4 linked regions of the Homo sapiens genome follow. The protein of the gene in region 1 interacts with the protein of each later gene in a pairwise test. Each region holds a gene or a part of one and is shown in the gene's direction. Other genes may lie near its edges.

Region 1 (7,038 bases):
TCGTTTCAAGTGGCCTTCCTTGGCCACTTGAAAGCAGGTGGGTGGAAGCTTTGGTGGCCCAGAGGCAATAGGAGGAAGGGCAGTTGCCATGTGGTGTAGACAGGTTCTGTGGGAAGGGCAGAAGCTAGAGATGTTCATAAACAGTGGGCCAGAAGAATCCTGGGAAACTCACTTGGGAGTGTTAGACTTTACAAGTTTTAGAAAGTTCTACAAGTTTTCAGGCTTCACCAGTTTACTGAGTGTCCCCTTCTAAGTTTGTCCAAATGCCTCAGCTGTCGTTACTTGAGTGATCCCACAGCCCCCCTACTAGATGCATACTCTGAGAGGAAATAGTGTGCAAAGAATATCTGGGAGTGAGACTGGCTTGGTCCCTTAATGGCCAGGTGAGACCTGTGAGCTGAGGAAGACTAGCCAGGTGGACTGGGTGGGGAGGCAGTAAGAGATGCAGGGAAGAGATCAGCCCAGGCAGAGGAAGCAGCTTGTGCAACATTCTGAACAGAGGAAGAGTGTAATTTTGCCTAATGACCACTGAATAGTCATTGTTAGTAGTTCTGCAGGTCATAATGGCACTGTTTCTGGAATCCCTATGTAAATACTCAGGCTACTAGAAATGGTGTCAATTAAGCCCCATGTTGGGTTGCAGATGTAGCATTCTCCATCCTTTGTGTGGAGTTCACGACCTGGTATCTCATTTCTGTGAATACCCACGGTGCTTGTGCCACCTCCTCTTTTGAAGTAAGCCCTGGCAATGCCTTGTGCTGGTTTCCCATTGTTGCCTGGCATCACTTGGCAGAGAAAGAAAGTAGCAGCTAATTCCTTTTTGTCTTGGTAGACACCTTGGCTTGTGCCCTGGAAGCCTTGCTCCTCTCAAAAACATCTCGCCGGGCACTTTGGGAGGCCGGGGCAGGCAGATCATTTGAGGCCAGGAGTTCGAGACCAGCCTGGCCAACATGGCAAAACCTCGTCTCTACTAAAAATATAAAAATTAGCCGGGCGTGGTGGCAGCGTGCCTGTAATTCCAGCTACTCAGGACGCCGAGGCATGAGAATCGCTTGAGCCCAGGAGGCAGAGGTTGCAGTGAGTGGAGATCGCGCCATTGTACTCCACCTTGGGTGACAGAACAAAATTCCTTCTCAAAAAAAAACAAAACGAAACATCTGATCAGAAGCTCCATTCTCACTTTCTTTCCTTCCTACAAAATTTTCTGCTTGGAAAGTATGCCTATAAATCAGGAAATTGATAACAACAATTAATGTGTTAGAAAAGTGAACATTTTAAATATAGCTCCATTGATGGAGCCTAGCTTCTGGGTAGGTGTTTCTATATCTTGAGCATACCACTTACCTCTTTGTTTTTGTTCTTAGAAATTACGACTTTGCATGGAGAAAGTTGACCAGAAAGCTCCAGAATACATCAGGATGGCAGCATCATTAAAGTAAGCTATTCATCTATGTTTTTCTAATCCAGTGGTGACTGTTTTCTGGCATTTTAGGTCAATTCTCCAGTAGCCAAAAATGAAAATCTTAACTTCAACCGTGCTTTTTTTCTGAGACCAGCTGAAGTTGGTTTTTTTCCACTTTTGGCTATTATGAAGAGAATCATCTTCATGTCTGTCTTTTAGTGGGGTACAGGCTACCATCACATGAGCTTGTAGAAAGACAGCCACATTCAGTTGACCTTGGCTATTCTGACTGAGCAGGTTTGGGAAGGGCCTCAGACAATAGGTACTGCTGCTGAGTGCAGCATCTGGACAGAGCAGAGGAAGGGCAGTGGGTCTCATGCTCATGTCTGGGTAGATGCCACTTGAGTGTCACATTGAGGTGTCAGGGCTTAAAGCAGGCATGACCATTAGAGCAGGGGCTGGCAGACTGCAGCCCGTGGGCCAAATGTATCCTGACATCTGCTTTTTTTTTTTTTTTTTCCGAGACGGAGTCTCACTCTGTTGCCAGGCTGGAGTGCAGTGGCGTGATCTCGGCTCACTGTGACCTCCACCTCCCAGGTTCAAGCAATTCTCCTGCCTCAGCCTCCCAAGTAGCTGGGACTACAGGCACGCACCACCACGCTCAGCTAATTTTTTTATATTTTTAGTAGAGACGGGGTTTCACCATGTTGGCCAGGATGGTCTTGATCTCTTGACCTCGTGATCCACCCGCCTTGGCTTCCCAAAGTGCTGGGATTACAGGCGTGAGCCACCGTGTCTGGCCAACATCTGCTTCTTTTTTAAAATTGAGATGTAGTTCACACACCCTAACCTTTACCCTTTTAAAGTGTACAGTTTGGTGGTTTTTAGCGTATTCACAAAATTAGCGAACATTACCACTGTCTTCATTGTAAACATTTTTATCACCCCAGTAGGAAACCCCATACCCATTAGCAGCCACTGCCCTTTCCCCATCTCCCTGGACACCACTAATCTATTTCCTGTCTCTATGGATTTGTCTGCTTTTGACATGTCATATAAATAGAATCATAAATATAAAATCTCTCTTGTCTGGCTTCTTTCACACAGTGTACTGTTTTTCAGATTCATCCATGTTGTTGCATGTATCAGTACTTCATTCCATCTGTATGAATGCATTGCATGGATACTTGTCACATTTTGTTTATCCATCAGTTGATGAACATTTGGGTTTTTTCCACTTTTGGCTGTTATAAATAATGCTTCTGTAATATTTGAGTACAAGTTTTTATGTTTTTTGTGTAGACATGTTTTCATTTCTCTCGGGTAGGTACCTAGGAGTGGAATTGCTGGGTTTTATGGTAACTATATATTACCATAGAGTAACATTCCATAGAGGAATTGCTAAATCGTTTTGTGGAATGACTGCACTATTTTGCATTCCCACCAGCAGTGTATGAGGGTTTCACTTTCTTTATAGCCTTACCAACACTAGTTATTGCCACCTGTTTGCATAAAGTTTTATTGGAACACAGCCATGCCCATGTTTGATTACTGTTTGTGGCTGCTTTTGCACCACCATGACAGAGTTGAATAGCAGCAACAGAGACTGTGTGGCCTGCAAAGCTGAAAACATTTATGATTCGGCTCCTTATGGAAAAAATTTGCTGATCCCTGCTTAAGATCGTTGCTTTTTCTGAAGCTTAGTGTTTGTAACCTAGAAGTTAAAGTGCTAACTACTAGAGTCAGATCCCAGCAGTGTTTTCCCAACCTGTAGGAAAAGAATTAATTATGGTATCTAGTGTTATTAATTTCAGAGTTTTCTGTCTTTGTCTTAAACCTGTGTTGCCTATCTGCCACATTTAAAGCGATGCATGTAGTAGTAGATGTGCCTTTTTTAAAAACAAAACCATGTGTATATATATATTTAAAACAAAACCATGTATATATATATATATATATATATATATATATATATATATATATATGTATTTTTTTTTTTTTTTTTGAGACCGAGTTTTGCTCTGTCGCCTAGGCTGGAATGCAGTGGTGCGACCTTAGCCCACTGCAACCTCCGCCTCCCAGTTCAAGCAATTCTTCTGCCTCAGCCTCCTGAGTAGCTGGGATTACAGGCACCCACCACGATGCCTGGCTAATTTTTGTATTTTCAGTAGAGATGGGGTTTCATCATGTTGGCCAGGCTGGTCTCGAACCTCCTTGGGTACTTTTGAGCGAGAAAAGCCAAGTAGCTTTCTGCTCTTAATGTAGTGTAACCACTTCTTACATCTTGTTAGATATAGTGGAATTGTTTAGGAAAAGTAGGCCAGAGTAAATTCAGCCGCATTTGTTTTGGTGATGAGCATAAGGGCTAGTCCTTGGAGGCCTTGGCATGAATCTGTCCCTGTTGCGTCTGCAAATCGAAACATCACTTCCACTTGATTCATTCATTCCAAGAGATGGACACTGCATTATATCTGAAAGTCTGAAATGCCACCTTTAGAGAATTAACTGCCTTTGTGAGGCCTTACACCTTTAGCGTCCTTCTACACTATGCTGTCCAATCTGCACCATGAAACTTAGGTCACGTGTCTCTGGTTTCTCCTTAGTGCTGGGGAGACAACCTACAGTCTGGAACATGCCAGTGACCTTCGAGTGGAAGTGCAGAAAGTGTATGAGCTGATAGACGCTTTAAGGTAAGGTCCATTAAGTGGTATCCTGCCCGCTGGTGGAATGGAGAAGATGCTGTTCTAATGAAATGGCGAAAGCAGACCTGCACTCACTCAGACTTCTGGTGATGGGGCAGTGGGTGAGGAGGAGGGCAAGGAAGGGGCCAGCTCTGGCACTTAATGCATCTCAGTGACTTTTGTTTCGTTAAGGATTTCTAATGTTTGCTATTATTAAAGAAAGAGGAGCTGGTTATTGACACCTATCACCTGCCAGTCACTGGCTGTTTTCTCTAGAATAGCTCATTTATTCTACTGAAGTTACCCTGTGAGGTAGGGATTAACATCCTGTGTCAAAGGTGAGGAATCATGTCACAGATAGCAAAAATTGTGGAGTGAAGATAGAAACTCAGGTTCTTTCTTTGTGTCTGTGCTCAAGTCCACAGCTGCTTTTTAACTGTGGACTGGCCATTGGGGTTAAATTAGCCAGTGACTCAGAGGGAGAATAAGATGAGGTGCCTTTGTCCATCCAGACATACAGCAGGAGTTCGTAGTTGCAGGGCCTGGTACAAAATGAAAATGCATGTCCCCTGTTCAAAAGTTATTAAGAATAAAGACACTAACAGCAGAGCATTAAACCAAGCACAGGGCTCTTTTAAGTGCCAGTCCTTTCCAGTTGCATAGGTTGCTCACCTGTGAAGCTGGCTCTGCATGTGTAGTCAGTCACTCCATAACAGTGTTGTGCGCCCTTTGCTAAGGCCTGTGTACAGCCAAAGGGTAAGAAATGGGCTTTGCCTTCAAAGAAACTTCAATGGAGTCACTTGTCCATCTTTACACACCTTCCTGGCATGAAAGCCTGGCAACTCCAGATGTTATACTTTTCACCCTTGTTTCTGAAGCTGGCAGTGCTCATTATATTCATGTGTTTGTTCCAATTCAGTAAGAAGATCTTAACCTTGGGCTTGAACCAGGACCCTCCACCACATCCAAGCAATTTGCGGCTGCAGAGAATGATCAGATACTCAGCTACACTTTTTGTGCAGGTAAAGCCATCCTGGGTTGGCATAAATGTTGCACTTGGCCTGTCCTGCTCTTTTGCTTCCCAGGAGGCAGATCCATGCCAATGACTTGTTTACTTCCTATTTATACATTTATTATTTTTTGAAATTATGAATGCATGATGCCACACTTAGAGAAAAATCTGGATTTCAGAGAAAACTAAAACTACTTTTAATCCTATGTCCCCATTACAATCACTCATTATTCTGGTATGTTTTCTTTTTTCCCATTTGTATTTTTTATATACAGTAGTTACGATACTGCATATTGACTGTATATGCCATTCTTTAACCGTTTTCCTTTAGTTGGACATTTGATAGACTAATTTTTTGCTGCTGTTAAGTGTTGCCATGATAGTAATAATGGTACTTAGTATTTCTTCCTTAGGATAATCTCCTAAGAGACTCTTCTTGAGCCATCAGCTGGGAGGAAACAGCCGATTAAGGGCAGACTAACCTAAGTGGTTAGATCTGAATTGTGTCTTTCTATCCCTGAAGGCCCCTTCTGAGAGAGTCACAGTTAACCACTCTTGGGGCTCCCTGATAAAGAGATCTGTTTTTTTCTTTTTTTTTAAATTAAAACAAAGTGTTTTTTTTTTCTTTTATTAAATAGAGACAGGGTCTTACCATGTTGCGCAGGCTGGTCTCAAACTTTTGAGCTCAAGCAGTCTGCCCACCTTGGCCTCCCAAAGTGCTGGGATTATAGGCGTGAGCCACTGCACCCAGCCAACAAAGAGATCTAATAGACAGAGTCCTGTCAGGTTAGTTTTCTAACTCTGTAGTATAGAGAAGTAGGCCCTTCCTCACTTTGATTAGTGACTCTATTCAGCAATCATTTGTTGAGTGCCTCCTATGTACCAGGTAGTGTTTTAGGTGCTGGATGTCCTATAGTGAACAAAAAAGACCAACGTTCCTGTTCTCATTAAGCTTATGTTCTAGAGAAGGAGAGAGATCATAAACAACTAAAATATCTAGTATGTAAGATAGCAAAAGTGCTCTGGAGAAACTTACAGCAGGGAAGTGTGGGAGAGAGGGCTGGGATTGAGGTTTGCTAAGTTAATAGGATGGGCAGGGACAAGACCTCATAGAGAAGCTAACATCTGAGCCAGGTGAATAACTGGGATATCTGATGTTGATCATTTCATAAGGAAAATGCAGGCCCATTTGGAGTTGACTGTCTCACCCAATATGAGTTCTCTCCTTTCTAGCTGCTGTCAAATGATGTCACTCTCTGAGAACAGAGTGGCTCAGCTTAAGCAGACTCTCATCATGGGGCTTAAGGTTCATTTTTTCTCTAAAAGGGTTTAAGTGTAAAATTGTCTGTCACTCCCTGCAGGAAAAGTTGCTTGGTTTGATGTCACTGCCAACCAAAGAACAGTTTGAGGAACTGAAAAAGAAAAGGAAGGAGGAAATGGAGAGGAAGAGGGCCGTGGAGAGACAAGTGAGTGAAGCCAGGGATATGGGGCCTGCTTCCTCCTGTGGCTCTCAAGCACAGAGGCTGCCATGGGCTCCCAGGTTGTGTGCGGTTGTAGTGAATCAGAACCTCTCTCTCAAATGTGCATATTTCTTCTGTTGTGTTTCAGCCTCACTTTCATCTATGGGAACTAGAATAATTGTTTTTCTCCCCAGGGCCTATTTTTCTTTCAGAGCTTCTGCTGATTCTCTCATGGCTAGAATACCACAGAGATTGACAGTTCTCCCTATGGCAGGAGTTGCAGAGGACCAAGACATTAGGAAGTTCCTTGTAGAACATATCGGTATATGCAATATTAAACAGAAAATTATATGTGTATTTAACGCTGCGTGAGATTCCAGTGTAGATGAGGGGAACAGACCTTAGAGGTTTAAGAAAAGTATACGGCCTGTGAATCTAAGATTGAGAAAATCTGATGCCCTAACTTATTCATTATATTTTATT
Region 2 (5,092 bases), on another chromosome or scaffold:
CTCATGTATCCTTGTGCCCCTAAAAGCTTCATAAGCTTGCATGGAAAATGGACATACAGACAAATAAATTACAACACAGTATATTTACAAGATATGGAAGAATGAGTACGTAACTCTAAGGGGAAAGCAATGCAGTTGAGGAAAGCTTCCTAGAGGAGTAATAATGTGAGAGTTGGGTTTTTAAAGATGCATAGTTCCACCAAACAAAGTGTGAGATGGATGGGACAGCCTTTGAATAGCAGGTGCAAAAGCAAAGAAGTATGAAACATAGCAGTGGCTCTGAAAACTGCAAGCCGTGGAAGTTGAGAGGTGAGGAGCATTTTCAGTGTTTTAAGCTATTAATAATTTCATCTTATCCTTCTGCCTTACCCACTCCCATACTCCTAACTTCTCCAAGTAAGTGTTTGGCTGTAATTAGGAGCTTATTACTCCATTAAGACAAATATCTTGGGGTTTTTCTCATTATTTTCCTGAAAGTCTTTTTCTATTTTTCTGCTCCCCACAAGTTCTATTTTTTTAATTATTATAACACTATTCAGGTTCTAGATTCCCCTTGGTGTCTTTGGTATAAGAAATTCACATGTAATTTTTACCTGTGGAGTATAGTGAAAAAGGAGGAAGACATATCCTTAAATTATATACACATACACACACATAGTTTTTGTTACAGTATGATAGCTTTGTTTAGGAATAGAAACACAGTTGTTCAGCTGAATTATTTTAGTAATTAATATTTTTAATCCTATAAACATTGGTCTCTAGTCCCTTACCAGTGATGTAAGTGGAGAAGCTTGCTTTTCAGTGTGTGACTCAAGACTTCTCAAGGTTGACTTTTTAAAATCAGGGTTGGGGTTCTGCTTTTTTCCACCCACCTTCCTTCTATACATGGAGTCAGGAAAACACCCTTGATGACAGCACAAACTAAAAAAAGCAGTAGCATTAATCCACTCTGTTAGTTTCTGGCACTGCCTCTGTTTATACTCATATTGGATTGTGATTGTGTATCTGTCTCTGAGAGTCCCTTAAGGTAGGAATCATAACTAAGGTGTACATTTGTACACCTAGTTCAACACCTAGTTCATAATGGATGCTCATTAAACATTTGTTGAATTGGATTGAATTGAACTGAATTGAACTGGACTATGGCACCAACGGAGAAGGGGATTTTTGAGTTTGCTTTTAAGTGAGATTGATTTAAAATGAATTTAGAAAGAAAAATTATTCTTTTTGTTTTGTTTTTAAACATAGTCTAAATTTGGGGTACAGCTAGCAATATGTTCATTCGCCATAATTTTTTAAGCATTCTGAGCAATGACTCATTAGAGTCCCCAAATAGTTTTTTTTTAAGTCATAGTGGCCCTAGGAAACAAAATTAGGCTGGTAAATATAAATAGTAAGTGTGTTCTCATTATAGTCAGGAATGTGGGGTCTTGTTGATATACAGAGGAGGATCTTTATTTCTTCCCTTTGTAGCAGAGTTGGAAATGAACCAAAGATCCCCTGATAAAATTCCTATAGGGCTTCCCAGCACATTTATTTCATTCTTTCTAGAAGTCATCAAGACTTATTGTGTTATTGTTCAAAAAAAAATCAGTGCTACCTCATTTCCTAACACTTGTTTTCTGACCTCCAATTGTGTCTAGTCCAACTGGCCAAAAAGCCAGGCCAAAGATGTCTGTATTTCCATAGAGGAACAAATGAACTTAGCTTCTACTCCTTTCCCTCTACTTTGCAATTTTTTCTTTTGCAAAGGAGTTTGGAATTTAAATTCTCCAAGCCCAGAATCTTTCAATGCAAGATGGTAATAAAACTGCAAAACAATGGTAATAACTGGTCATTCCTCCAGTCCTCTGTCTTTTAAATATCTGTCTGCTCTGAGAGAGAGTCCTGAGCATCCAAATAACTTGTTGTTGTTGCTGTTGTTGTTGTTGAGACAGGGTTTCACTCCTGTCGCCCAGGTTGGAGTGCAATGGCACAATCTTGGCTCACTGCAACCTCTGCCTCCAGGCTCAAGCAATTCTTCTGCCTTAGCCTCCCAAGTAGCTGGGACTACAGGCACCTGTCTAATTTTTGTATTTTTTATAGAGATGGGGTTTCACTATGTTCCCCTGCCTGGTTTCGAACTCCTGGGCTCAAGCGATCCACCCGCCTCAGCCTCCCAAAGTGCTGGGATTACAGCGTAAGCCACTGCACCCGTCCATCCAAATAACTTTTATATTATAAAGAAGGCTGTCTTGCCAATGGGTAGCTATTTTATTCATTTACTCAGCATAACTTTATTGGATACCTCTGTGTTAAGCCCTGGAGATCTAAGGTGAGTAAGACTTCCCCCTACCTCCCAAGAAGCTCACAGTCTGTCTTGGCAACAATTATACAGTGCTAAGATAGGAGTGGGATAAAGTAATAACAGTAATTAGTTCAGCATGGAGGGGTCTGGAAGGGCTTTACAGAAAAAGTGACTTTTATGATTATGTATTTATGTATGTATGTATGAATGAGACCATGCCTGGCCAGAAAAGTGACTTTTAATCCTTAGTCTTGAAGAATAAGGTTCTTGCCAGGCGCAGTGGCTCACGCTTGTAATCCCAGCACTTTGGGAGGCTGAAGCAGGCAGATCACTTGAGGCCAGGAATTTGAGACCAGCCTGGCCAACATGGTGAAACCCGTCTCTACTAAAACTACAAAAATTAGCCAGCATGGTAGTATATGCCTGTAATCCCACCTAATCGGGAGGCTGAGGGAGGAGAATCGTTTGAACCTGGGAGGCAGAAGTTGCAGTGAGCTGAGATTGTGCCATTGCACTCCAGCCTGGGCAACAGAGCAAGACTCCGTCTCAAAAAAAAAAAAAGAAGATTTCAGCAGAGAAAGAATAGTCAAACATAGGACATAGTAAGAATAACTACTTGAGGTAGGAAAGCTCATGACGTGTTTAGGAACAGTGAGTAGTTGGGCATGGATGGCATAGAGGCTGCACTCTGAGAGATGGAACAGACAAGTGGGAAGCAGTATTGCAAGATGCTGAAAGGCACAGAATCTAGAGCCTGGATCTGAATCCCAGCTGAGCCACTTACTAGCTGTTGTGACCTTGGCAAGTCACTTAACCTCCCCTCTATAGCTTTGTTTCTTCGTTTTTTAAAATGAGGATAATAGTAGCATCTGTTTGACAGGGCCGCATGCATATATGCATATATACACACACATGGCTTTAAACGGTGCTCAGAACAAAATGAATATAAGTATTCTTTATTAGGGCACATTATGAAAGGCCTTGAACTGTACATTTTCCATAAGTAAAAGAAAGGTTTTAAAGCAGAAGAAGGGAGAGTATACAACAGGATATAATCTGTATTTTGTTTTATTTTTTAATTTTTTTTTTATTAGAGACAGGGTCTTGCTCTGTTGCCCAGGTTGGTCTCAAACTCCTGGGCTCGAGCAATCCACCCGCCTCAGCCTTCTAAAGTGCTAGCATTACAGGCCTGAGCCACCGCGCCTGCCTGTAATCTGCATTTTAGAAAAGTAACTCTGGTGCCACTCTGGAGAGTAGATTGGATAAGAAAGAAACTATAGACAACATACAAGCTCTGAGACAGTTTCAAGAGTACAGATAACAGGTGCTGATGTAACATGGTACTGAGTTAATATAGTGGCCTTGCCCTTAAAAATTCTGGGATCCTAAATAGAAACTTCAAACTTGAAATGTTAGTCTTAATAGATCTTACAAATTTAATTCTAAAAAAAAAATGAAGACCCTGGGGAAGAGCACAGAAGGACTGTCCTTGCAGTATGGATGTTGTAGTGCTCAACTGATGCTTCCATTCTATACCCAAATATCAGACCAGTACCTCCTGCCTACTATTCATGATATATTTTCATCTGGTTAGATGTCCAGAGCAAGACATTCTATTTTTGGAGATGCTTTTGTTTTTTCCTTCAAGTAACCTCAAACTACTTATCAGTTTCCTAGAGGAAGTTCTGGCTTCTGGACTGCACAGCCGAAGCAAGGAGAGCTCTCAAGTCACATCAAGGTCAGCGAGCAGAAGATGAAACGGTGGTTGGGGGAAGGGCACAGCTTCCTCTCTTGTCCCCACTACAGGTTTTCCCTACTAAACAAAGGTGTTGGAGAGCAGCTTTGGGTTCTGTGCTGGTTGTTAGAACTCATCTCCAGGTAGCCCACGGATACGTGGTTGGCACAGACACAAGACTCCCAGAGTTGTCCTAACAATAAGTCTGAGCCCATCTCAACCCACTTTTCTCCGGTAGTCTTTATGTATCTGTTAGCACAATCACTTCAGTTACTGATGAATTTTGTTGGGATCTGACTTGGGGAAAGGGTTATCAGAGCCTAGAGGGGCTTAAAAAGTAATCATTTGATGTACATACCACACTCCTTGGCTTCCTTTCTCTTCCCTTAACCCTTTCTGCTTTTCATTAACCACATTCCTGCACAACTCATTTCTGAAAACCTACCATGTTTCTTTACAGAGCCATCCAAAAATTTTTTGTCCCTACATAGCAATTTTCTGTGGCACTGAGAAACCATGTATGACCACAATAAAAATCCATTTTGTGAAAGGATATGAGTGATTTAGTTTTATTTCTTTGAGGCTAATTTATGGGAATTTATGAGGTGGGACATGAGCTGGTTTCACACCAAACATAATGAAGGCATTACTTCTACCTGAAGGATATTTAAAGTATGTCAAGGCAAATAATAAATTCTAGTGTCAATTTCACCTCTCTTGAAAACAGGAGAAAGTGACAGTATCATTATTGCCAGGAAATTAAGGCATCCTCAAATCATCATAGCAAAAATACCAAAGCACAATCCCTCCCTGTTTTGTGTGTGTGTGTGTGTGTGTGTGTGTGTGTAAACTTGTATGTTGACAAATATTCTCTAGCATCAGACAGTAAGGGTCAAACCTATGTCATATTTATATGGCTTTGGGAATATTATTTAGCCTCTTTGTGGCTCAGCTTTCTCATCTATAAAATAGAACCTTCCTCATAGGATTAGAAGAATTAAATGAGATGAGATGATACATGAAAAGTGCTTAAAACACTGGTATACGGTAATCATTTAATAAAATTTGGC
Region 3 (4,838 bases), on another chromosome or scaffold:
TTCTTCTGGAATTCCTCCTGAAGGGCCTGCCTGAGGTTGTTTTACTGTTAACATTTTTTTTAAATAAGTAGAAAGAATACACCCTAAAATAACAATAAAAAGTACAGTATAGTAAATATTTACATAAACCAGTAACATAGCCGTTATCATTATCCGGTATTATGTACTCTATGGAAATGTGTGTGCTAGATTTTTATACCACTGGCAGCACAGTAGGTTTGTTTACACCAGCATCACCACAAACACATAATGCGTTGTGTTGTGTACAGTAGCTACAATGTCACCAGGCAACAGGAATTTCCCAGCTCCCTTATTGTCTTCTGGGACCCTCGTCATACGTGTGGTCCCTCATTGACTGAAACATTGTAATGCAGCACATGACTGTATTTTGAAAACTCTCCTCAGGTGACTCCGATGAGCATCCTGATTAAGAACCATAATTTGGGGATGACCTTTGGCTTCTGTTATGATTTGGTTTTAGTACCCTGTGCCCTGTTTGGTTTTTGTTTTTGTTTTCACTAAGTGGGGATAGAATGTGATTTTCCTACCTCAGAAGGGCGCTGGGGGAGTGAACGAGGTAATGTAGTGAAGGCACTTGCGGTGATTTTCAAGTACAGTATAACCCTTATTAAAGTAGAGGCCCACATGACCCAGTCTCAGAGGTACAGCATTCAAGAGACATGATTCAATAGCCAAAACTGACTTAAAGAGAAATGTAATGATTTCCTCTCTGGAATGACATTGAAGGGGATTGAAATAAATAGATCATGCCAATACTTGTTAAATTTCCCTTTCTTCCCCAGCCCCTACAACCCTTCTACCCCCTACTGAAAAATCCCATCATCAGCCCAGTGGGCCTTTATTCCCCTCCTCTCTCATACCTTCGATTACCACGTGATGTCCATCAGCTGAGCCTCTAGGTCACAGGTCTTTCATTGTAGAAAGGGATCAGCTGTGAACATTCTGGTGCTCATAGGAGGCACGTGATAAATGGAGGGCTCTCCTTTCATCGTATCCTATCTTCATCCTCTCTCCTCCTCTTCCCAGGACCAGCTGCAGGCCCAGGACTTTAGCAAGTTCCAGCCGCTGAAGAGCAAGCTGCTGGAGGTAGTGGACGACATGCTGGCCCATGACATTGCCCAGCTCATGGTGCTAGTGCGCCAGGAGGAGTCACAGCGGCCCATCCAGATGGTGAAGGGCGGAGCGTTCGAGGGCACCCTGCACGGCCCCTTTGGGCATGGCTATGGGGAGGGGGCTGGAGAAGGTATCGATGATGCTGAGTGGGTGGTGGCCAGGGACAAGCCCATGTACGACGAGATCTTCTACACCCTGTCACCGGTGGATGGCAAGATCACAGGCGCTAATGCCAAGAAGGAGATGGTGCGCTCCAAGCTGCCCAACAGTGTGCTGGGCAAGATCTGGAAGCTGGCCGACATTGACAAGGATGGCATGCTGGACGACGACGAGTTTGCACTGGCCAACCACCTCATCAAAGTCAAGCTGGAGGGGCACGAGCTGCCCAACGAGCTGCCTGCCCACCTCCTGCCCCCGTCCAAGAGGAAAGTTGCCGAGTGATGGGGTGGGGGGACATTCAGACGGGCAGTGTTAGAGGAGGAGATGGGAGCGGTGACTACACACACACACACACACACACACACACACACAAACATGCACACACACATATGCATATCTTGACATTGCTCTGTAGGTGAGAGAGGACCATGACGCCCATGTTTGCAGCTGATACTTGTTTGGGCACACCTCCAAGTTCTCGGGATTAGAAGGACAAGAGCACTCCCAGGCCCCAGAGTCTAAGCCTAAGTCTCTATCGCTCTTCCCCTCTCCTCGGCCACTCCCCAGATACCAGACCTGAGGCAATTCACTTGCCAGCACAGATGGCCAACCCACCTCCAGATTCCCCAGTGCTTCCACACCCGGGCTCTGAGCAAATGGAAAAGACTTTTCATTTAGTAGACAATTCACTTCTTTTTCTGTGCTTCCCCTATCTGCTTTGGCTTCCTAATAAGAAATCCATTCAAGAGCTAGGAGATCTGAGGGCAGGCGGGCAGCTGCAGGGAGGAGAGGTGAGAAAGGAAGCGTCTTCTAGAGACATTGGCCCAGGAGCTCTGTTCTTTCCTAATCTAAGCCTCTGTCTTCTTCGGCAAACCTTGCTTTGAACTCTGCCAGTATTTCATTTTAAAGAATCCCAGAGCGGGAGAGAGAAGAGAAAAAAATTGATAAGAGTGAGGAAATTGTCCTGTAGTCTATTGAAAACCAGTCAAGGTGGTTTTAGTTCATAGATTTTGTTAGATGTTCTTTCCACCTGGCCTATGATGTTTAGATGTTCATACTTGACTCACATTTACCCAGCCCCTCCTGCGTACCAGGAGCTGTGTTAGGCACTTTATATACATTATTCTATGTGGCCCTCACTGATGCCCCAGGGAAGTATGCATTAGCCTTCCCATTTTGCAGTTGAGGAGGCTGAGTAGCCTCAGAAGGGTTTAGGCGACCTTCTGAAACTCACAGAAGTCACGTGATGGAGAGAGGATTCAAAGCCAGGGCCTCAGACCCTCACACACTTGTCTGTGCTATGATGTATGCAGGATCCCAGCATTGATACCCAATGACAAACTATGGAGAACAAGCAAAGTATGCAGGCCCCCTGCAGCCTCCCAGGACAGGCTGGCAAGGGAGGAGGGCCGGCCAGCATTTGGTGGCCCATCAGTCTGGCCATCTGTCACGTCACAGAAGCAAACCGTGCCTTCTGGCTCTGCGCCCCATATTCCCAGCATCATAGACATCCAACAGCACCAGCAGGAGAGTGGGCTAGCCTGCTGGATGCTGTTCGTGCCTGTCCCTGCTCTGCCTCCCACCCAGTTGCCTGAATCATCCCAGCTCAGATGCAGCCACTGTCTCTTGTCAAGTGGGACCTCATACTATTCTCAGAAGGCTAACTTGAGAGGTTTGGGGCCTTGTTCCCCAGAGGGTCCCCAGGGACTCTGCAGTGTCCTTGGCAAATCCCCACTGTACTCAATGCCCTACATTCTCTTCTGTGGTCTCTCCCCTGGCTTGCTTCATGGCCACTGAACCAATCACTTTGTATGCTATGCTCCTACTGTGATGGAAAACAAAATGAGTATAACTTATTTTATATCCATATTCAGACTATATAGAGAATATTCTATGCATCTATGACGTGCTTACTACTGCAGTGCATTTGTCATTAGTCTTCATGTTAATACAGTACATTTATTCTTTGGTACCTGCCTGGCCACAGAGCATCATTCAATGGAGGCTGAGGGAGAAGGGCTGGGTTCTTACTTGGAGTTCCTGGTGAAATCTTTGGCTGGAAAGGGCTCACTGGGGCCACCCAATGGCCAGCATCCACAACCAGCTTCCCAGTGGGCTGGAGTTTGTCTAGGCTCAGTGACCAACCCAGGCACAGCTGGTGGAGCCACCGCTCCCTGCTCCTCTGGAGTGAAGATGTTCCCTAAGCCCCTGGGCTTCCTTCTGCAAATACACATTTCTCTTTCACATGAAATGAAGGGCAGACAAAGGCCAGGCAAAGAGGTCTCACCTGCTCTGGAGAAAACCCTTGAGTGCCGAGTGCAGGTTAGGGACCATTTCTCAACTCCACACCTTTCTTCAAGCTGAAGGAGAAATGGGAAGGAAATAGCAGAGGTAGGTGAAGTTCCTGTCTTTTTATTTTATAGGAAAGGGAGATGTCTGTTATCCCCTTTCTTCACTGCCACTGGACACACATGCCACTTTCCTGCCCTTCTACATATGCTGCCTCTCTTCCCTCTCTCCATCTTGAAGTCTCCACCCAGGAGAGACCTGTGAGGTGTGGGAATTCCATGTTTGCACAGCTCCCATCTCCCTGGAAAGAGGAACTGATGTTTGAGGGGACAGATGTGGGTCACTTTCCCTGGCAGTGCCCTCTAGCCTTGCTGCCTTGGCTTTCTGACCCCTTCCAGGCTTCAGGGGCCTGGGAGATCTCATGCCTCAGCCCAGGAAACATTTAATAGGGAAAGCAGAGACATGTCATGTCAGCCCCACAGACAAGAATTTCTAGAGCACTTGTCCTGTTGTTCCTTGCCCCGACATTACTCAGTCTGGGCCATGGAATCCATCCAATAAACACAGCAACACCCTATGCTACTGACCAAGCAAAGCTTGCCCCTGGTACCAAAGAGCTAAATCATGACCAAAGTGTGACATGAATGTAACTGAAATGCGGGTTAGTTGCTCAATGTATGCAAAGTCCCACGGACAAGAGTAAAGTCTGATACCAATAAAGTGAATGTATTCCAAAGCTAGCTTGGAGGAGGGGCACACAACGTCCTGCCTTTCAATGTGCCGCTTCCCCTTTGGAGCAGAAAGCAGGCACTTTTATAAGGTAAGGGAGCAAGTGAGCAAGGGTCCGCCTGATAGCATGGTGCCTTATCTACTGGACAGTTGAGTCGGGCCTTCCTGGGCAAAAATAAATTTTAAAAGTGGCCAAGTAGGCATACTTTAGATATAACCTCCTAGTGAATGAAAGTCCTGAGGCAGCCCCTGGAGGGTGGGAGTTCCAAGGCAACCCCTGGAGGTGAAAGCTCAAGGAGGGCATGTTTTGGTCTGCAAATTGGCAGTCAATTCTGGAGGACTATTTTGGAGCAGAGAGATGAACTTGCCCTGTAGGGAATGTCTAGTGAAGGGGAGATGAAAGCTTATATTTGCATTTCCCTTTTTTTGAGACAGTCTCACTCTGTCGCACAGGCTGGAGTGTAGTGGCATGATCCCAGCTCACTGCCACCTCTGCCTCCCAGGTTCAAGCCATTCTTGTGCCTCAG
Region 4 (7,038 bases), on another chromosome or scaffold:
TTCATCCATGGCTCCCCAGTGCCGTTCAGGACACAGGAGCATGGGATTTAGGGTCCGCTGTGACCAAGGCTCACTGCCCCTCCTTTGCCCCGTGTCGCACCCCCACCCCTGCTCCTCACATATGAGTCCGCCACACTTGGTCGTCACCAACAATAGCCATACTGTTAACCTCCCCTCATGCTCTCCTCCAAAGATACCAGGCCTTCCTGGACTCTCTGGGAGGAGGCATTCACCCTCCTCCCAGTGCCTCAGTTTCCCATCTGTACGATGGAGGGTGTGGACGAATCCTCTGGCTCTAAGTCCTTTGGCTGAAGTGATAGCTGTTAGAAGGGGAGATTTTATGATGCTGTGATACGTAAGGCCAAGATCTTGGGAGGGTCTGATTCTATAGACGCCAAGATGCCCTGAACCTTCAGACCACATTCTCTGCAGTGGCCCAGTGACATTCATTCAGCAGTTGCCGATCGCATGTGGTACTCCTCTAGGCTCTGGGGATACAGCAGGGAACACAGATAAATTCCTTTTCTCATAGAATTACTTTTTAGTGGGGAAGCAAACATTAAACAAATCAATGGTTATGAAGAAAAATGAAGCGGAGGAAAGAGGGGCTGGCGAGGGACTATTTTAGAGCGCTCTGAAGGAGAGGAAGGGGTAAGAGGAAGGGGTGAGCCGAGTGGCGATCGGGTGGAAGAGCAGTCCATGCAGTGAGAACAGCATGTGCAAAGGCCCTGGGGCAGCCATGCACTTGATGTGTTTGAACTGAGAGCCTAACGGGGCTGGAGACAGGGTGGTGGTGGAAGGTGGAAGAGATGAAGATTTAGAACCAGTCAGGGACCACCAACGTTCTCAGCAGTCTAAATTTGTGATTCTTTAAAAAAAAAAAAATATATATATATATATATATATACATATATATATAATTTTTTTTTTTTTAGATGGAGTCTCTCTCTATCACCCAGGCTGGAGAGCAGTGGCATGATCTCGGCTCACTGCAACCTCTGCCTCCCAGGTTAAAGTGATTCTTGTGCCTCAGCTTTCCGAGTAGCTGGGACTCCAGGCAGGTGCCACCACACCTGGCTAATTTTTGTATTTTTAGTAGAGATGGGTTCTCACCATGTTGGCCAGGCTGGTCTCGAACTCCTGACCTCAGGTGATCCGCTGGCCTCGGCCTCCCGAAGTGTTGGGATTACAGGCATGAGCCACTGTGCCTGGCCTAAAAGAATTTTTTAACTAGTCTTTTTTATTGAACATTTAAGACCATCTCATGGAAAGGCATTCATACTTTATCAGACATGATTCTCCCACACCTCACCCCACCAGCTCCCAGGGCCTCTTTTCTAGAGGCAACCCCCATAAGTAGTTTCTTGTGTGTCTTTCCAGATATACTGCATTTTTTTTTTTTTTTTTTTTGAGACGGAGTCTCGCTCTGTCGCCTAGGCTGGAGTGCAGTGGCATGATCTCGGCTCACTGCAAGCTCCGCCTCCCGGGTTCACGCCATTCTCCTGCCTCAGCCTCCCGAGTAGCTGGGACTACAGGTGCCTGCCACCACGCCTGGCTAATTTTTTGTATTTTTAGTAGAGGCGGGGTTTCACTGTGTTAGCCAGGATGGTCTCGATCTCCTGACCTCATGATCCGCCTGCCTCTGCCTCCCAAAGTGCTGGGATTACAGGCGTGATATACTGTAATCACGCCCGGCCAATATACTGCATTTTGTAAAAGCATTTATTTATTATTATTTTGTTTTGAGACTGAGTCTCACTCTGTCGCCCAGGCTGGTGCAATGGCACGGTCTCAGCTCACTGCAACCTCCACCTCCCAGGTTCAAGTGATTCTCCTGCCTCAGCTTCCCATGTAGCTTGGATTATAGGTGGGCACCATCAGCCCGGCTAATTTTTGTATTTTTAGTAGAGATAGCATTTCACCATGTTGTCCAGGCTGGTCTCTAACTCCTGACCTCAGGTGATCGACCCGCTTCAGCCTCCCAAAGTGCTGGGATTACAGGCGTGAGCCACCGCGCCTGGCCTATTTATTCATTTTTTTAGAGACAAAGGCTCGCTGTGTCGCCCAGACTGGAGTGCAGTGGCGACATCATAGCTCACTTCAGTCTCAAACCTCTGGGCTCAAGTGATCCTCCCTCCTCAGCCCCGGCAATTCACTGGGACTATAGGCGCGCGCCAGTACACCCAACTAGTTTTAAAATTTTTTTTTAGAGACCAAGTCTTGCTATGTTGCCCAGGCTGGTCTCGAACTTCTGGCCTCAAGTGATCCTCCCCCCTTGGCTTCCCAAAGTGCTGGGATTATAGGCATGAGCAATATTTAATTTGTGAGCTTCCTATAAAATATAGACATACCAATATTCATTATTCTGCTCTCCTTGTTTATTTTTCGATAATTTATAAGATTGTGGACCAGGTGTGGTGGCTCACACCTGTAATCCCAGCACTTTGGGGGACCAATGTGGGCGGATCATCTGAGATCAGGAGTTCAAGACCAGCCTGACCAACATGGAGAAATCCCATCTCTACTAAAAATATAAAATTAGCTGGGCATGGTGGTGCATGCCTGTGATCCCAGCTACTCAGGAGGCTGAGGCAGGAGAATCGCTTGAACCCAGGAGGCAGAGGTTGCAGTGAGACAAGATCGCACCACTGCACTCCAGCCTGGGCAACAGAGTGAAACCCCATCTCAAAAAAAAAATAAAAAATAAAAAATAAAAAGATTGTGTTTCAAAGGTTCTCAAGTTCATTGGTTTATTCCACAAATATTTCCTGAGTGTTTTCTGTACAGATTGTACTGGTGCTGGAGATGGAGGGAACAGACAAGTTTCCAGCCCTTCTGGGGCTCCTTTTTTTTTTTTTGAGACAGTGTCTTGCTCTGTCACCCAGGCTGGAGTGCAGTGGTATGATCATGGCTCACTGTAGCCTTGACCTCCCCGGCTTCAGTGATCCTCCCATCTCAGCCTCTTGAGAAGAGAAGATTAATAAATCAAGACATTAGGCCAGGCGCGGTGGTTCATGCCTATAATCTCAGCACTTTGGAAGACTGAGGCGGGCGGATCACAAGGTCAAGAGATCGAGACCATCCTGGCCAACATGGTGGAACCCAGTCTCTACTAAAAATACAAAAATTATCATGGTGGCGGGCGCCTGTAGTCCCAGCTACTTGGGAGGCTGAGGCAGGAGAATGGCGTGAACCCGGGAGGTGGAGCTTGCAGTGAGCCGAGATTGAGCCACTGCACTCCAGCCTGGGCGGCAGAGTGAGACTCTGTCTCAAAAAATAAATAAATAAATAAATAAATAAAGTCATTATTTGCACCACTGCACTCCAGTCTGGGTGACAGAGCAAGACTCTGTCTCAAAAAAAAAAAAAAAAAAAAAAAATCCACTGTCCATTTGGGAGAAAAAAAGAGTGAAGAAAGCAAAAAGCGAATAACGTCTTAGTATTGTTCTTAAAATAATTTTGACCACAGGAACCCCCGAAAGGATCTTGAGGACCCCTGGGTTTCCCTGGACCACACTTCGTGAATTGCTGCTGTAGGGCTTTGTCGGCTTCGGTAGAAATTTTGAACTTCAATAAGCAAATAGAGAGTTATGAGCAGCATCCCCTGGGCTCATGTTCCTTCCTGAAAAATGCCCTCTTGGGCCACTGCTGCATGGAGCAAGGGTTATTGGGGCAGGATGGGGAGCTGGGAGACCTGTCGGGCCACCTTGGGTGTCTCCCCAGGCAAGAGAGGATGACGCTCGAATGGACATGGTGGCCACTGAGGTGGAGAGAAATGAGAAGCAGGGGAGAGGCTGGGCGTAGTAGCGGGTGCCTGTAGTCCCAGCTACTCAGGAGGCTGAGGTGGGAGGATGGATTGAGCTGGGAAGGTGGAGGTTGCACTGAGCCGAGATTGTGCCACTGCACTCCAGCCTGGGGGACAGAGCCAGACCCTGTCTAAAAAAAGCAAAAAAGAAAAGGAAAGTAGGGGAGAGAGGGAGAGACATAGGAGGAGGCAAAAGGGACTCATTGATAGGTTGGATGTGGCTACTTAACAGGAGGAAGAATCAAATATCAAATCAATAATGATTTCAAGAGCTGGGTACCGTGGCTCCCGCCTGTAATCCAGCACTTTGGGAGGCTGAGGCAGGCAGATCATTTGAGGTCAGGAGTTTGAGACCAGCCTGGCCAACATGGTGAAAACCCCTCTCTACTAAAAATACAAAAATTAGTGGTGGCGGGCACCTGTAATCCCAGCTACTCGAGAGGTAGAGGCAGGAGGATTGCTTGAACCCAGGAAGTGGAGGTTGCAGTGAGCCAAGATCATGCCATTGCACTCCACCCTGGGCAACAGAGTGAGACTCCCTTTCAAAAAGAAAAAAAAAGTGATTTCTAGAGCCGGACGGGGTGGCTCCCGCCTGTCATCCCAGCACTTTGGGAGGCCGAGGCGGGTGGATCTCTTGAGGTCAGGGGTTCGAGACCAGTCTGGCCAACATGGTGAAAGCCAGTCTCTACTAAACATACAAAAATTGACCAGGCATGGTGGCACGTGCCTGTAATCCCAGCTACTCGGGAGGCCAGGGCAGGAGGATTGCTTGAACCCGGAGGTGGAGGTTGCAGTGAGACAAGGTTGCGCCACTGTCCTCCAGCCTGGGTGACAGAGTGAGTGAGACTCCGTCTCAAAATAAATAAATAAATAAAAATAAAATTTCTAGATTTCTGGCCTCAACTGGGAAGGCAGGGCTGGGGATGCCCTTTTCAGAGATGGGCACAGCTGAGGGCGACACAGCTCTGAGGGCTAGGCTCAAATTCCACTTAGGGCATCCTGGTATGGAGCTATCCAGGAATGTTGACAGGGCAATTAGCTCTGAGTCCTGAGCTGGAGGGAGAGGCTTAGGCTGGTATGCAGATTCGGGAGTGGACCTCTTGGAGGGGTGTTTAAAACTGGGAGGGACTCAGCTCACTTAGTTAGCAGAGAGGAGGAGCCCAGGGTGAGCCCCAGCAGGAGGAGGCCATGAGGCTCACAGTGTGGCACCTCCGCCTGCAGCACCTGTAACTTGTCAGAAATGCAAATTCCCATCTGGGCAGTGGCTCTTGCCTGTAATCCCAGCTACTTGAGAGGCTGAGGCGGGAGGATCCCTTGAGCCCAGGAATTTGAGGCTGCAGTAAGTTATGATCGCACCACTGCACTCCTGGCTGGGTGATAGAGCGAGACCCTGTCTCCAAAAAAAAAAGAAAAAAAAGCAGGCCAGGCGCGGTGGCTCATGCCTGTAATCCCAGCACTTTGGGAGGCCACGGCGGGTGGATCACCTGAGATTAGGAGTTCAAGACCAGCCTGGCCAACATGGAGAAACCCCGTTTCTATTAAAAATACAAAAAAATTAGCCGGGTGTGGTGGCGCATGCCTGTTAATCCCAACTACTTGGGAGGCTGAGGCAGAAGAATTGCTTGAACCCAGGAGTTGGAGGTTGCAGCGAGCTGATTGCACCACTGCACTCCAGCCTGGGCAACAGAGCGAGACTCTGTCTCGAAAAAAAAAAAGACTGGGCACGGTGGCTCACACCTGTAATCCCAGCACTTTGGGAGGCCAAGGTGGGCAGATCACGAGGTCAGGAGTTTGAGACCAGCCTGACCAGCATGGTGAAACCCCATCTTTACTAAAAATACAAAAATTAGCTGGGCATAGTGGCGCATGCCTGTAATCCCAGCTACTCAGGAGCCTGAGACAGGAGAATTGCTTGAAGCCGGGAGGCGGAGGTTGCAGTGAGCCGAGATTGTGCTACTGCACTCCAGCCTCGGTGACAGAGCGAGACTCCGTCTCAAAGAAAAAAAAAGAGAGAGAGAGAGAGAAAAAGAAATAAAAGAAATACAAATTCTCATGCCCCAGCCCAGACCAAGTAAATCAGAATCTCTGGGAGTGGGGCCTGCAGCCTGTGTTTTAACAAGCTCCCTGGTGGACCCTGATGCAGGCTGAGGTGAGAACCCTTCCCACAGGTTCACGCTTACATCATCAGCTACCTGAAGAAGGAGATGCCCTCTGTGTTTGGGAAGGAGAACAAGAAGAAGCAGCTGATCCTCAAACTGCCCGTCATCTTTGCGAAGATTCAGCTGGAACATCACATCTCCCCTGGGGACTTTCCTGATTGCCAGAAAATGCAGGTGGGAAGCTGCCCAGGAGGGAATGTTGGGGGTGGGTGATGGGAAGGTTGGTTTCTGGAAGCTCTGAGATGGGACCTCAAAAGCCAGAGGGATGGATGGCAGGTTCTGGAAAGCGCCTCCCTCAAATAGTTCCGTGGGAGCATGGTTTTATGAGTCAGGCTAGGGGAGTGAAGAGAAAACCCAAAATAACAGTGGCTAAATTAAGATAGAGAGTTTTTCTTTCTTTCCTCCATAAAAAGTCCCAGAAAGTGATCCAGGACTGGTTTGGTGCTTTACAGAGCCAGGGATCTAGTCCCCTTCTGTCTTATTTCTCTTCCATGCCTGGCCTCCAGGCCCAAGGAACTTCATGGTACAAAAGGGCTGTGAAGGCTCCAGCCATTGTGTCTGCGTTCCAGCCAGCAAGAAGTTGGGAAGGGGGCCAGGCATGGTGGCTCACGCCTGTAATCCCAGCACTTTGGGAGGCCGAGGCGGGCGGATCACGAGGTCAGCAGATCAAGACCATCCTGGCTAACACGGTGAAACCCCGTCTCTACTAAAAATACAAAAAATTAGCTGGGTGTGGTGGTGGGCGCCTGTAGTCCCAGCTACTCGGGAGGCTGAGGCAGGAGAATGGTGTGAACCCGGGAGGCGGAGCTTGCACTGAGCCAAGATAGCGCCACTTTACTCCGGCCTAGGCAAAAAGAGCGAGACTCCGTCTCAAAAAAAAAAAAAAAAAGAAAAGGAAGTTGGGAAGGGGAAGAAAAGAGTAGTCTCTTTAAGAACACTGTTTATTTTATTTTCATTTATTTATTTGAGACTTAAATATTTATATTTGTAAAATATAAATATTTAAAATATACACAGCTGGGTGCAGTGGCTCATGCCTGTAATCCCAGCACTGTGGGAGGCCAAGGCGGGTGG

What was found.
Region 2: the proteins of RBSN (region 1) and VPS45 interact in binary tests that used the Homo sapiens proteins (3 or more experiments, as listed by UniProt).
Region 3: the proteins of RBSN (region 1) and EHD3 interact in binary tests that used the Homo sapiens proteins (3 or more experiments, as listed by UniProt).
Region 4: the proteins of RBSN (region 1) and EHD2 interact in a two-hybrid assay, tested with the Homo sapiens proteins (one study listed by BioGRID and IntAct).

Annotation. Positions count from the first base shown.
Region 1 is NC_000003.12:15,075,129-15,082,166, reverse strand, and holds part of RBSN (rabenosyn-5), read left to right. Parts: intron 1-1,364; coding exon 1,365-1,435; intron 1,436-4,005; coding exon 4,006-4,092; intron 4,093-5,002; coding exon 5,003-5,105; intron 5,106-6,456; coding exon 6,457-6,561; intron 6,562-7,038. UniProt on the Homo sapiens protein: Rab4/Rab5 effector protein acting in early endocytic membrane fusion and membrane trafficking of recycling endosomes. Required for endosome fusion either homotypically or with clathrin coated vesicles.
Region 2 is NC_000001.11:150,140,753-150,145,844, forward strand, and holds the end of VPS45 (vacuolar protein sorting-associated protein 45), read left to right. Parts: intron 1-2,085; coding exon of another isoform or gene 2,086-2,179; intron 2,180-3,956; coding exon 3,957-4,044; coding exon of another isoform or gene 4,045-4,169; 3' UTR 4,170-4,577; downstream 4,578-5,092. UniProt on the Homo sapiens protein: May play a role in vesicle-mediated protein trafficking from the Golgi stack through the trans-Golgi network.
Region 3 is NC_000002.12:31,265,130-31,269,967, forward strand, and holds the end of EHD3 (EH domain-containing protein 3), read left to right. Parts: exon of another isoform or gene 1-811; intron 812-1,047; coding exon 1,048-1,575; 3' UTR 1,576-4,322; downstream 4,323-4,838. UniProt on the Homo sapiens protein: ATP- and membrane-binding protein that controls membrane reorganization/tubulation upon ATP hydrolysis. In vitro causes tubulation of endocytic membranes. Binding to phosphatidic acid induces its membrane tubulation activity.
Region 4 is NC_000019.10:47,730,396-47,737,433, forward strand, and holds part of EHD2 (EH domain-containing protein 2), read left to right. Parts: intron 1-5,973; coding exon 5,974-6,138; intron 6,139-7,038. UniProt on the Homo sapiens protein: ATP- and membrane-binding protein that controls membrane reorganization/tubulation upon ATP hydrolysis. Plays a role in membrane trafficking between the plasma membrane and endosomes. Important for the internalization of GLUT4.